Homo sapiens: one gene and its partner. The protein of the gene in region 1 interacts with the protein of each later gene in a biochemical or structural test. Each region holds a gene or a part of one and is shown on either strand. Other genes may lie near its edges. The genes, in order: KIF3A and AP3B1.

Region 1 (7,357 bases):
GAGATACTCAATAAATAATTGTGGAAGAGTTATTGATATAGTATAAAGTCTTAATTTTTTTTTAGGTTAAAGAAAGACCTGATGTGGGAGTTTATATCAAAGATTTATCAGCTTATGTGGTAAATAATGCTGATGATATGGATAGAATTATGACGCTAGGCCACAAAAATCGTAAGTATAGTGTGTAATTGTGATTAAGCATCTGTGTGTTGAGTAGGCTGGTTTAGAAGCAAATTTGGTATGGCACTTTACCCTGTAGAGACTGGATTTTTTAGGTTTCTTGAAAACCATTCCACTTTGATTATTTACCATGTAGAGAGCATAGATGAATGAAAGATACCACAAATCATTTTCCATGCCGAGCAAAATTTTGTTTCTTTTTAGTAGCGCCAATCTATGCAACTCTCATACGGCTGTCTCTTGGTAGCTATAATAGTAAAATTGGTAATGTTTATTGAGCTCTTAGTGGAGAGTGCTTGTGCTAAGTGCTTCATAAAGATGCTCTCTTAGTCCTCACAGGAGACTATGAAGACATTAAATTCTTACTTTATGAATGAAGAAAGTGAGACTTAGTTTAAGTAACTTGTCTAAGTACTATAACTACTAAGTGGTAGAGTGAGTGATCACACCTAAGCCATAGCCACGCACAGTGGCTCATGCCTGTAATCCCAGCAACTCGGGAGGCTGAACTGGGAGGATCATTTGAGGCCAGGAGTTTGAGACCAGCCTGGACAATAGGGAGCCCCTGTCCTAAAGAAACCCACCTGGAAGAAACCCAAAAAACCTAGGCCAGTAGTCTGCATTAACTAGGCACTGTAATGCTTCCCTTTTGTTGACAAGAAAAGCAAAACAAAATTTAAATTAAAAAATTGTATTCTTTTTAGTAATTGTGTCACATTTTTAGTCTAAAGAGTAGGAAGCTTCAGCGATATTATACAGATGCCTCAAACCTAGTACTGGTGATGCAGCTAATAGCAATTAGAAATTAGAGGTGAAAAGTCTGGTCGCGGTGGCTCACACCTGTAATCCCAGCACTTTGGGAGGCTGAGGTGGGTGGATCACTTGTTTGAGACCAGCCTGGCCAACATGGTGAAACCCCGTCTCTACTAAAAATACAAAAATTAGCTGGGAGTGGTGGTGGGTGCCTGTAATCCCAGTTACTCGGGAGGCTGTGGCAGGAGAATCGTTTTAACCAGGAAGGCAGAAGTTGCAGTGAGCCGAGATCGCGCCACTGCACTCCAACTTGGGCAACACAGCAACCAAAAAAAAAAGAAAAAAAGAGGGATTAGAGGTAAAAGATGAGAAATAGGAAATGAAAAATTTTTATAAGTTTCTGTGACTTGACGATAGATATATCAAACCCAAGGAAATCAAACAACAAAACTTCAAAAATCAATTACATTCTTATGAACCAATTAATAGAAAAAGACCAAATCTTAATAGAAAAATTAGCAAAAAATATGTATGTTATTCGTAGAAGAACTAAGCACAGCAATAAGTATGTGAAAGGCTGTTTAACTTCACAACTAATCAGGAAAATGCTAAAACAAGATAGAGAGAGATGTTTCACCCATCAGATTAGATGAAGGATATGTAGGTTGGTGAGACTTTGAAGAAATGGGCACTGAGGATGGAATATAAATTGGTGCAGCCTATTTGAAGGGCATTGTTAACAGTATCTGTTGACATTTTAAAATACATTCCTTTTGACTCTGTGTTTCTAATTTTAGACATTCTGGAAAATATTTTTAGATGTAACAATCTAAATAACCTTCAATAAAACCCTGATTATGTAAATGATGACACAAAAATACCATAGACTGTAATAAAGCTGTTAAAAACAATGAGTTAGGCTGGGTGTGGTGGCTCATGCCTGTAATCCCAACACTCTGGGAGGCCAAGGTGGGCAGATTTCCTGAACTCAGGAGTTAGAGACCAGCCTGTGCAACATGGCGAAACCCCATCTCAACTAAAAATACAAAAAAATCAGCCAGACGTGGTGGCTTACGCCTATAATCCCAGCTACTTGGGATGCTGAGGCAGCAGAATTGCTTGAACCTGGGAGGCAGAGGTTGCAGTGAGCCAAGATAGCACCACTGAACTCCAGCCTGGGCAATAGAGGAAGACTCTGTCTCAAAAACAAAACAAAACAACAACAAAAAAAACAACAAGCTGAGTGTGGTGGCTCATGCATATAATCCCAGCACTCTGGGTGGCTGAGGCGGATGGATCACTTGAGGCCAGGAGTTTGAGACCAGCCTGGCCAACCTGGTGAAACCTCGTCTCTGCTAAAAATACAAAAATTAGCTGGGCGTGGTGGTGCGCACCTGTGATCTCAGCTACTCAGGAGGTTGAGGCCGGAGGATCACTTGAACCTGGGAGGTGGAGGTTGCAGTGAGCCGAGATTGTGCCACTGCCCTCCAGCCTGGGTGACAGAGGGAGACCCTGTCTCAAACAAAACAACAAAAAAACCCAGTCAGGTAAATGTGCCTACACAGAGCTGGAAGATTTTCAAAGTATGTTTGTCAGTGGGGGGATAAAAGCAAATTGTAGAACAGTATGTATGTACTGCCTTACCCCATTTATTTATATGTGAAAAATTGTTAAACCATATATTTATTTGGGCAGTGTGTGTGTGTTTGTGTCTACACGTATGTATATAAAATACAGAATGAAAGGACAGATTGTAGTGGTTACCTTTAGAGAAGGAGAAATAAAATTGGGGAAAAGGAATGTCAGGAGCTTTCACTTTATGCTTTCTGTATGCTTTTATTAAAAAAACAAATACCAGAAATATGTTAATTATTGGTTATTTAATTAAAAATTTTAACACAAGATTTCATTCATAGAATGAAATTAATTTAATTCTCAGGTAGTTAATTGGAGCTTTTGGTCACTTCATTAAAGATTACCCTTTTAATGTTTCAATTATAAAATCAAAGCTTGCACAGAAAAATGCTGCATGAATGTATAGTAGGAAGATAATTTTGGCATTGAGTAAAATTAACTTTAAAATACTTTGGAATTTAAGAAAAAAACTAATACAGGTCTATTGTAAAAAAATGTTTTTTGTTTACACAATATATTCATATATTTACACATATGCAAATACTTTGCATATTTTGAATGGATTTTTTTTTTTTACAGAAGTAGGATTATGTTATGTATTTCTTTCTAACTTGCTTTTATTTTTAATTTATATGTTATGGACATTTTTCCACGTTTTTAGATCTACCTTATTTTTTTTAATGCTGCACTGAATATTGTTGTATTGTCTAACATATGTGTGCAAGTATTCCTGTGGTTTATATGTTCAAGCTGGAGTGCAGTGGCGCAATCTCAGCTCACTGCAACCTCCACCTCTCGGATTCAAGTGATTCTTGTGCCTCAGCCTCCCAAGTAGCTAAAATTCTCTTTATTATTATTGTTTTTTACTTCCTGCAGTACACCAGCATGCATACTTCTCTTTAGATAGCTAAATCAGCAATAATTTTTCCAATTAATGTGGTTTTTTGGTGTAAATTAGTTATTTTTTAGGCAGTATTACTAGGGATTGAAATTATTTTTTGCTAAAGTTATGTCTTTAATATGAGAAACCTTACAAATTTGTTATCAACAAAGTATAAGAGAAATTTCATGTAGTGGCTAAGTACACACCCATGCCTTTATGGTTTAGCCATGCTCTCTGGCTTTTGATTGTGATAAAATTAAGTGTTTTAAACTGTTCAGGATGTTTAATTATTTTTAAAGGCACTCTCTGTTACACTTTTAAAGGATTTCGTTTATTTATTAAAGGTTCTGTTGGTGCAACTAATATGAACGAACATAGTTCCCGTTCCCATGCCATCTTTACAATTACTATAGAATGCAGTGAAAAAGGCATTGATGGTAACATGCATGTCAGGATGGGGAAGCTCCATCTTGTAGATCTTGCTGTAAGTAACAGGACACTGCTTAAGGAATAACTCTTTCTTGTGATCCATTTATTTTATAAATGAATGAAAATTAAAGTGAAAAGGTATGATTTACATATGATTTTTAAGGTGTTACTTGTGTATGTTTATTATTTATTATGGAACATTTCAAATGTATATGAAAGTAGATAGAATAGTATAGTGATCCCCCATACACTGATCACCCAACTCCCAACAATCAGCTCATGGCTAATCTTGTTTCATGTACTCTCCCCCACTTCTTCCTTTCCTATATTATTTTGAAGTGAATTCAGGCATCATATCAGGTTTTTTACTGTTACATTACTTTTTAATAAAACCTTGGGAAGAATATTCTATTTTTAAAAAAATTTTAGCTTTACTTTCATCTCTGTTTATTGCTAGGGTTCAGAAAGACAGGCAAAAACTGGAGCTACTGGACAGCGCCTAAAGGAAGCTACAAAAATCAATCTTTCACTTTCCACCCTTGGTAATGTAATTTCTGCCTTGGTTGATGGAAAAAGCACTCATGTGCCTTATCGTAACTCTAAACTGACTCGTCTTCTTCAGGATTCCTTAGGAGGAAATTCAAAAACCATGATGGTAAGACTTAATTGGTGATATAGTTAACATCAGGCAAATTTAAGATTGTAATTTATGCCAATAATTGATACGTATCACATTTTTTAAACTTGATTATTTTACTTTTTTTGACTTGTGGTTGTCCTTTTTGTGGTACACTCGTGTATTAGCCCATAATAGTGTCCTTTGGAAACTCATGTGGTTGACACTCTCATTTTCGAGAAGGCCAAGGGTGCATATGTGCTTTAAATGTTTTTGATGTATTTGTAATGGTAGTATTAATTTTAACTCTGTCAAGTGTAAAATGATTTGTTTCATATTTCTAATTCAATAGTGTGCAAATATTGGGCCAGCAGATTACAATTATGATGAAACTATCAGTACATTACGGTATGCCAATCGTGCTAAGAATATTAAAAATAAAGCTAGAATTAATGAAGATCCAAAGGATGCTTTGCTGCGTCAGTTCCAGAAAGAAATAGAAGAACTGAAAAAGAAGCTTGAAGAAGGTAGCTTTTCCTCAAAATATTAATCTTTATGTTGGCTAAAAATACATTGTTGAACCACTAACTGTTCTAACAAAAGCCCTCTATTAAACCTTTTTTGAGCCTCTAACATTGGTAGTTAAATGAATATTTCTAGAAAGTGACTTGGTACTTACATACTTTCGCATTTTCATATTAAGCTTAAGTAAAATTACATAATATTTGTGTATGTGGTTTTTTAAAAACATTTGCATGATGTTTTGTAGATTTCATATGACCACTTTTTAAGGAATGAATGTTTATTTGTCTCTGTATAAGAGCAAATTCTGCAATGTATGTATTTAGGTGAAAATGACCAGAATTCTGGCATTGCAATCAATATCAACTAACTATTGTTTGAAGTAAAGCAAGATATTAGACAGTCATGAGTAAACCAAGTTTGCTATAAGGAAAAATGCATTGCATGACCTTTAAAATATCCTTTCATACCTAAATTTGAACATGAGATTGTATTTTGGAAATTCTTTTCTAACAATATCATGCTAGAAAGTTGGAAAATTTGAAGATCTTATTTATGAGAGTGAGACGCTTCCCAGTCATTAAGTGCTGAGTGAGTCCTTGCACCTTAATGCGAGAAACAGATCCTTTCTGATTGGTACAGAGCTCCTTCGCGAACCACGTAAACAGGGCTTTGGTTTCAAAGCACCTTTGTAGTCTGTGAGAAGACTGACTAGATCAGAGGTGAAATTCAGAGACGCCAGCATCACAAATGTTTAGAGAGGGTACTTATTTAGTAAACAAGTAGTTATTGAGGAAAAGCAGTAAGAGAACTGTTAGATAATGAAATTTGGTGTTTTAAATGTGACCACTAGGTGGTATTTATAGCCAGTATGTTTTAAAGATTTTTAATTTCTTAGCGATGTTAACGGTGAGTGCATACTTTTATTTTGCTGACTTTATGTTTTACATTTTTTTGTTGTGGTAAAATATACATGACATAAAATTTATCATTGTAACCATTGTTAGTTAAGTGTACAGTTAGTGGCATCAAGTATATTCGCATTGTTGTGCAACTGTCACCACTATTCATTTCTAGAAATTTTTCATCATCCCAAACAGAAATGCTGTGCCCATTTAAGTAGTAACTTCCTATTCTTTTCTCCCCCAGTCTCTGGTAACCACTATTCTACTTTCGGTCTCTATGAATTTGACTATTCTAGGTACCTCATATAAGTAAAATCATGGAGTATCTACTTGTGACTGGCTTATTTCACTTAACAGAACGTTGAAGGTTCATCCATATTGTAGCAAGTGCCTGAATTTTATTCCTTTTTAAAAAATTGTGGTTAAACTTGCATAACATAAAGTTTACCATTTTAATCACATTTAAGTCTACATTTCTGTGGCATTACATTCACATTGTTCTGCAGTTATCCGTCTTCAGTTTTCTTCTTGCAAAATTGAAACTTTGTACTCATTAAAAACAGTATGTACCCATTCCTCCCTTCCCCTAGTTCCTGGCCAACAACCATTCTGCTTTGTCTATGAATTTGACTGCTCTGGGTATCTTACGAAAGCGGAATTGGTGGGGCGCAGTGGCTCACGCTTGTAATCCCAGCACTTTGTGAGGCCGAGGCGGGTGGATCAGTTGAGGTCAGGAGTTCGAGACCAGCCTGGCCAACACGGTGAAACCCCATCTTTACTGAAAATACAAAAATTAGCTGGGCATGGTGGCTCTCGCCTGTAATCCCAGCTACTTGGGAGGCTGAGGCAGGAGGATCACTTGAACCTGGAAGGTGGAGGTGGCAATGAGCCGAGATTATGCCACTGCACTCCAGCCTGGGTGGCAGAGTGAGACTCCCATCTCAAAAAAAAAAAAAAAAAAAAAAAAGAAAGTGAAATACAGCATTTGTCTTTTTGTGACTGGCTTATTTCATTTAGTATAATGCCTTCAAGGGTCATCCGTGTTGTAGAATGTATCAGGACTTCTTTTTAATTCTGAATAACATTCCATTGTGTATATACTACATTTTGTTATCCATTCATCCACCAATGGACAGTTGGTTCTTTCCACCTTTTGGCTATTGTGAATAATGCTGCTATGAACGTGGGTATACTAATACCTGTTTGAATTCTTGTTTTACCATTTTTGGGGTATGTACCCAGCAATGGAATTGCTGGATTCTATGATAATACTGTTGTTAATACATTTCAGTTCATTTTTGCTCTTATGACATTTCTTTTTATAATCTAGTTAATGGAGTTGATCATATCAACAATAAAAAAGTAGGCAATAGCATTAAAATAATAATTTTTAAACTTAAAAATTATTGTAGGCTATATGCAACTTGCAAACAT
Region 2 (7,357 bases), about 54 Mb from region 1:
TAATTTTATCCTTTGTTCCAATAAAGTGTTTTTTTTCCCAAGCATTTTTTTCCTCAAGTACAGTTTCCAGTCCAAGATAATATATTTAATTTAGTTGCCATGTCTCTTTAATCTTCTTTAATCTGGGATAGTTCCTTAGCCTTTTTTGTCTTTCATGAATTTGACATATCTAAGGATTGCAAAGCCTATTATTTTATTTTATGTTAATCAGTTTTTGGGTTTGCTGGTGTTTCCTCATGTTTAGATTCAGGTTATGTATCCTTGGCTGGGATACTACCATAGGTGATGCATGCTTCTTGAACTATTACATTTGGAGGCATAGGTTGTCCATCTTCATGATGTTAATTTTCCTAGTCACAGGGTTGTCCAGTTTCTCTGTGGTGTCATTTCTGTTTTTTTTTTTTTTTTTTTCAAATTATCTGTGGGGAGACACTGAGACCATGCAGATGTCTTGCTCTTTTTTAAATGGACCACTTCTACATTTAACAACCATTGATCAATCTCCTGAACCTGTCTTTTCCACAATGGCTGCAAAATGGTAATGTTTCAGCTGCAACTCCCTCTGCTGTTCTGCTCTTTGGCTTCTTGGCCTAGAGCTCTGTGTTCACTGATCCTTCACTAACCATCTCAATGATGCCTAGGTACTTCCTAGTCATAGTATTATCGGCAATTTTTGTTTTCTGAATTTAATCTTATTTATCAATATTATTTATCTTCTCCTCTCTTCAAACAGAAGCAGAATTAGATGGCTTTATGAAAGTAGATCCTATACCTAATTTATTGGCTAAAAAGGCCTGTGTATTAGATTATTGGCTTCAAGATTTTCAATTTCTTTATTTAAAATGTAAAGAACTTATTTTTGTACTCTTATTTTTTATTTTTTGAGACATGTCTTACTCTGTTGCCTAGGCTGGAGTGCAGTGGTGTGATCATGGCTCACTGCAGCCTCAACCATCTGGGCTCAAGTGATCCTTCCCACCTCAGGCTTCCGAGTAGCTGGGACTACAGGTGCATGCTACCATGCCCAGCTAATTTTTGTATTTATTGTAGAGATGGGGTCTTGCCATGTTGCCCAGGCTAGTCTTGAACTCCTAGGCTCAAGCAATCCGCCTGCCTCATCCTCCCAAGGTGCTGGAATTGGAGGCGTGTACCACTGTGCTTGGCCCCTTCCTTCTTTTTAAAATATTCTCAACTTTTATTTTCTGTTTTTTTCTAAGTTGTTTTTCTTCATTTAAAAAAAAACTTCTTTTAACCAATTTGGGTATGTGTGCCTATAATTAAAAATAATTTTAATAATTCTGTTACTGGATTAAACATTTAATTAGGAATTAATTTCTAGAAACAGACAAGACTAATTAATTTTTCTTAATTACAATAGTAAAGCTACTAAATTTGTAAATCTCTTTTCCTTTGAGAGCATCTTGGTGTATTAGAAGGAAGACTGAGGCTGGGAATGGTGGCCCCTGCCTGTAATCTTAGCATTTTGGGAGGCCCAGGCAGGAGGATTGCTTGAACCCAGGAGTTCCAGACCAGCCTGGGCAACATAGTGAGACCTTGTCTCTATAAATGAAAATGGGAAGAAAAAACAAAAAACACTGGGCCCAGAGTTAGAAGACCTGGATTTAAGTTGATGTTTTCCATTTGTAGTAGTGCTTCCTTGTTCAAGTTGCTGATCTCTTCAAACCTCAGTTTCCTCATTTCTAGACGGGATGTGATAATACTTGCCTCTTTTGTGAGGATCTCATGAGATGGTGTACTTCAAAGTGATTTCTAAACTAGGATATTAACTAACGCTATTTGGGAAAGTTGGTGAAGACTTCACTGAGGTAGTGACACTTTAGATCTTAAAGCCTGAGGTTTTTGCCAGGGGGAGGAAAGATGGATTCTTTAGGCAGAGTATGTAGAAACCAGAAGATTTGCAAAAGAAAAAGCATGTTCAAATGAGATGGATATTTAGACATCACAATTATGAATAGTAGGTAGTAAAGTATGGGAATGGATGAAATCACCCAGGGAAGACTTTTCTTGTTAGACGAGAAGGCAGTTTGGACAAAACCCAGGGGACAACAGGATATAAAGTATGAATGGAAGAACTAGAAAAAGAGACTGAGCTCAGAAGGGTGGGAAAACACAGGAAGGTTTAAAAAAGAAGATGCTAACAGGAAAATTAAAAGAAGGAAATGTTCAGCTATGTCAGGAGTTGTAGAGTAAGGGCAAATAGAATGAAGGCTGAAAAGAGGCCCTTGGGTTTAACAACTGAAAGGTGACTTTAGCAGCCAGTAACTTAGCAATGCAGTACCTCCTGCACACGTTGAAAGGTAGCATTTTTACTCTGTTTAAATCGGGGTGGGCTTTTCATTTGTTTAGATTCAAAGAGCTAATTTAGATCCAAGCAAAGTACTGCATGCTTTCCTGTAGTCAGTAATACAACCCAGTGTATTTGGATTGCATCAATAAAGCCTGACTTATTTTTTAACTTAAATCTTATTCATTGTCAACTTTACAATATCAAACATGAAAATTCTATTACATTCATTCTTAACCTTTAATATCAGTGATTCTCAGGAGAGTCCAGTAGGAAGATTACATGTGTCTGTGGTTTGTACGCAATTATAGCAACTCTGACTTTATCTCCACTACTTTTTGTATCTTTCTGAAAGGCATATAGAAATGCAGCTGAGTGAGATTCATTTACTTAGAGGGATGTTATTGAATATACTTTCTTAAAAATACAATTTTATTAATAGTAACGCATTATATTTGACCTACCTCAAAGAGTCATTGTGTCTCACTATGGGTTCTAAACTTGTTTGTGTTTAAGTCCATTTTTTATTAATACTTAATTTTATCTAGTGTCTGTACCATATTTTTGGGTGTTTTTTTTTTTCATTTAACATTTTTTCATGGTCTAGTTGTTTAGAGCTTGCTCTACTTTCTTTTTGCTTATCCTAGTATTTCTCATTTAAACTTTATCTCATTGTGTATTTTCAGTTTATGTAGTTGCTCAGTGAATATTTCTTAAATATTTATATAGATAAATCGTTCACACATTCTGCTCATATTAAAGACTGTGATTTGTGTGAAGGTGCCTAGCAAAGTGTTTGGCTCATAATTTTGCTTAATAAAATATTTTCAGATCCTTTTACTCAATTCAGTGATTTAGATTCCATTAACATTTGCTCTCTCATTAGCCAATGTTGTTAAAAAATGAAGCATGACTGATTCCGTGGACCCTATACAGAAGGAAACCCTCATCTGGTATCTCCATTGTATTGTAGTACAGCATCACCCTGAAGCTAATTTTGTGTAGTTCACTTGGGTCTTTGCTGTGGTTAGGATTAACTGACTCGGAATTGTCATGTAGGTATGGAATGAACTTTACAATCAGGATTTTTAGTCTTTATCCCAGTCTTCAAAGGCATCTTTACCTCCCAGTCTTGGATTATTCCATATGTATGGTTCATTCCTCTGTGTTTTCACCATAAAAATGCATAACAATTATAGTGTCTTTATCTTGTTTTTAAGAAACTCAGACTTTATTTGGAGAGATTAGGCTAATGTGAACTAACCGTCAGTAATTCAAGTATACAATTAGTGTTAAATTGTGTAATTCAACTTTTCAGTGTGGCATACCTATTGAAAATTATTTGTTATAAGCCTTTGTTTGTGTAAACAGTGATTTACTGAAGAAAATGGAAATGCTGGAATTTTGAAATGTTAAGGACATTTTAGTTTGAGACGTTGAAGTGTTGGTGCCCTGAGTCATAAGCATGACATGAAGAGGCACGGGCTCCTTCCTCATTGTGAATTCCTTTCTCTTGTGCTCAGGAGTTCAGGGTTGCTGCTATGAAAATATGCTTCAGTCATGATTTTGTCAGCATACTGTTATACATCTGATCATCTTTAGTTATGAAGATTTAAATCTCTTGTGTTCTAATAATTCCAGGTTTGATAACTGATCTGTCTTGTTTATTATGTTTAGCTAATTGAAATTTATGGTCATTAGATCTGGTACTAGAGCTGTTAACATATTTGCTTGCTACATATGTAAACTGGATCCTACTTTTTTTTTTTTTTTTTTACAAGGGGTACATTAAGTTATTAGGAAATTTTAGTATTTTATTGATTTTTCACTAAATTTCAGCATTTGTTCCAAGGTGACTAAAAATAAAAGAAGAAACTGTATACTAGCATCTGCAGTGCATTCCTAGCAGCTGAACTAGTTGTTTTTGTCTTCATAAAAATAAGATCGTAAGTTTTACAAAGGGCCAACTATTCAAATTAAGGATTGTCATTTCAGTGGTGCAGTAGGGTTCCATTTATGATTTAATTCTTGAAATATATTTCAAATTAAATAAGATTTTACTACATTGAATAGAAATTTGATGAAATACTGCCTGTAAACAGAGTCTTACTTTCCAACAGATTATAAAACCTTTTATCTTATTTTGCTTTGCTTGCATATCTCCTTGAAGGAGAGTTGGTTCTGACTTCTACATTTTGTCTTAATAAATATTCAAGAAAATATTCTTTCTTGACAGTAGGATATGTTATTTTTAAAATCACTGATCTGGTAAAATTTGAGGAGAAAAATCTGAAAATTAAATTTCAAGCCTTACCATTAAATCATAAGATGTGAGATTTTATGTTATTTAAAAAAAATTTAGTATTTGGAGCAACATTACCAGAGCTGAATGATTAAAGCACATGAAAAAGGCAGACAGATGGTTGGTTGAAATGTTCTTTTTTGCTGCATGAAAAGTTATAAATGCTCATAGAATGACAAATGTATTACAGTGAAATAATTTGACAGTATTTCACTTGTGTATATAAATGAACTACTGACAAAAACAAATTGCCTGCAGTCCAAATTCAAAATTTAAAATGAAGAGCTTAAAGTAGAATAATCAAGAAGGAAATGATTTTCCTCTATTTCATATTATTATGAATAACGTTGGTTCGTGTATTTAGAGAAGGCTTATTTAGCCTATCAGCTGGAAAGACTTAATAGATCTACAAAAGTGAACAGTTTATAGCCAATATCTGTTTATTGATGGACTGATTATTTATATTGCTGATAGGAACCAGCCTAATTAGAAGTCCACTGTCTTTAATTCAGCTGAGTGAGTTGGCATGGTAGCTGGACAAATGAGAGAAGAATGAATAAGGCCCTGTCTCAGTTTGTTTTATGCTGCTATAACAAAAAACCTGAGACTGGGTAATTTCTAAAGAATATAATTTTATTTCTCACATTTTTGGAGGCCAGGAAGTCCAAGATTGAGTCACAGGCAGGTTTAGTTTCCTGGTGAGGGCTGCTCTTTGCTTCTAAGATGGTCTGTTGTTGCCGCATCCTCTGGAGGGGAGTAATGCTGTGTCCTTACTGGGCAGAAGGTGGAAGGGCAAGAGAATGGAAGACTGTGAAGCCTCTTTTGCAAGGGCCTTAATCTCATTCATGAAGGGAGGAGCCCTCATGACTAAATCTTAAAGGCCCCACCTCTTAATGCTATCATATTGGCCATTAAGTTTGAACATCTGAATTTTGGAGAGGACACATTGAAACCATAGTAGGGTGGTTCCAAAATCATAGGTTGGCAGAGCTAGGCATCACCCAACTTTATTCTTGGAATGGGTTTTCTGCAAGTTTTTAAAGCCTAGGTTGAGAATGTGGTCAAGAAGGATGTGGGGGAAATTAATTAGTAAAATATGAGGGCAGAGAGATAAGGGGCAGAGTGGAAGGCGGAGACCTGATTGTGTAGGGCCTTGTAAAATCATTGTTAAGGTCTTTGATTTTACTCTGAGTGAGAAGGGATGCCATTTGGAGAGTTTTGAGCAGAGGGGTGAAATGATTGTTTACCCTTTAAAGGGACATTTTGCCTCTTGAACTAGGAGTGGACTGCAGATTTGAGGCAAGGACCAGCAAGGAGACTATTACAGTAATTCAGGCAAGAGAAGGTGATCCGATTGGTGGTAGTGGAGAGAAGTGGGTGAGTTATGGATATATTTGAAAGGTAGAGCCAATGAGATTTGCTGATAGTTTGGATGTGATATGTGTGTGGGAGAAAAGATATCAAGGGTGGATACAAAGTTTTTTGCCTACACAGCTCGAAGTTTGGAATAGCTGTCAACTAAAATGAAGAATATTGTGCAAAGAGGAATTTTTTTTTAAAGGGGGAAAGGGACCAAGAGCTTGTGCATGTTAAGTTTGAGATGCGATTAGGCATCCATGTGGAGATACTAAATAGGCAGTTGGATATCAGAGTGTGGAGCTTAGAGGAGGAGTCAGGCTAGAAGTATAAATTTGGGAGTCATCAGGTATCATGGGATTGGATGAGACACTGAGGAAGTGAGTGTAGAAAAAGGTCAGAGTCAGTCAGTCCTGGGACATTCCTGGAGTAATTGTGTCAAATAATACAAATAGGTCAAGTAAGATGATTACTGAGAAGGGAGTTTTGGATTTGTCACTGGGTGGACTTTGGTGACCGTGACAAGCAGTTTAGGTGCACTGGTGGGGCTGAAAGCCTCATGAGTGGGCTCAAGAGAGAAGGAAGAAGAAGAATTGTGGTTAGTATTTTTTTTTTTTTTTGAGACAGAGTCTTGCTCTGTCGCCCAGGCTGGAGTGCAGTGGCGTGATCTCGACTCACTGCAAGCTCCGCCTCCCGGGTTCACGCCATTCTCCTGCCTCAGCCTCCCGAGTAGCTGGGACTACAGGCGCCCTCCACCACGCCCAGCTAATTTTTTTTGTATTTTTAGTAGAGACGGGGTTTCACCGTGTTAGCCGGGATGGTCTCCATCTCCTGACCTCATGATCTGCCCACCTCGGCCTCCCAAAATGCTGGGATTTACAGGCGTGGGCCACCGCGCCTGGCCATTAGTATATTTTTAAGTATAGAAGAGCAGAGAAATGGAGCAGCACTTGGAGAGGAATGTTATGTCAAGGAATTTTTCCTTAAGGTAGGAGAAACTGTATTATCTTGTTTGCTGATGGAACCAACTGATGTAGAGGAGAGAAAATAGATGATGCATTAGAGAGAAGGAAAATTGCTGGAGAATTGCTGATATCCCCTTTTTCTTCTAGAAAACTTACAGATACAGGTTAGCTGAAAAATAACAACCCTAATTTCAATATCCAGAAGAAATCGGTTAATGTAGTATATATCTTTTAGCCTTTTTTCTTTTGCATATATATTTATATGTATGTATGTGTATATCATGTGTTTTTAGAGCAAAGCTATATGCTTTTATAATATGACATTATAATTTGCTTGTTTCATTTACCAATGCATGGAGCCTGCTCATTTCTTAAAATGATAGTCCTTTTAGGACAAATTGTAGTTAAATTACTATCTATTAGCTATTA

What was found.
Region 2: the proteins of KIF3A (region 1) and AP3B1 form a complex in vitro, tested with the Homo sapiens proteins (one study listed by IntAct).

Annotation. Positions count from the first base shown.
Region 1 is NC_000005.10:132,713,423-132,720,779, reverse strand, and holds part of KIF3A (kinesin-like protein KIF3A), read left to right. Parts: intron 1-65; coding exon 66-171; intron 172-3,795; coding exon 3,796-3,935; intron 3,936-4,337; coding exon 4,338-4,535; intron 4,536-4,848; coding exon 4,849-5,023; intron 5,024-7,357. UniProt on the Homo sapiens protein: Microtubule-based anterograde translocator for membranous organelles. Plus end-directed microtubule sliding activity in vitro. Plays a role in primary cilia formation. Plays a role in centriole cohesion and subdistal appendage organization and function.
Region 2 is NC_000005.10:78,284,475-78,291,831, reverse strand, and holds part of AP3B1 (AP-3 complex subunit beta-1), read left to right. Parts: intron 1-7,357. UniProt on the Homo sapiens protein: Subunit of non-clathrin- and clathrin-associated adaptor protein complex 3 (AP-3) that plays a role in protein sorting in the late-Golgi/trans-Golgi network (TGN) and/or endosomes.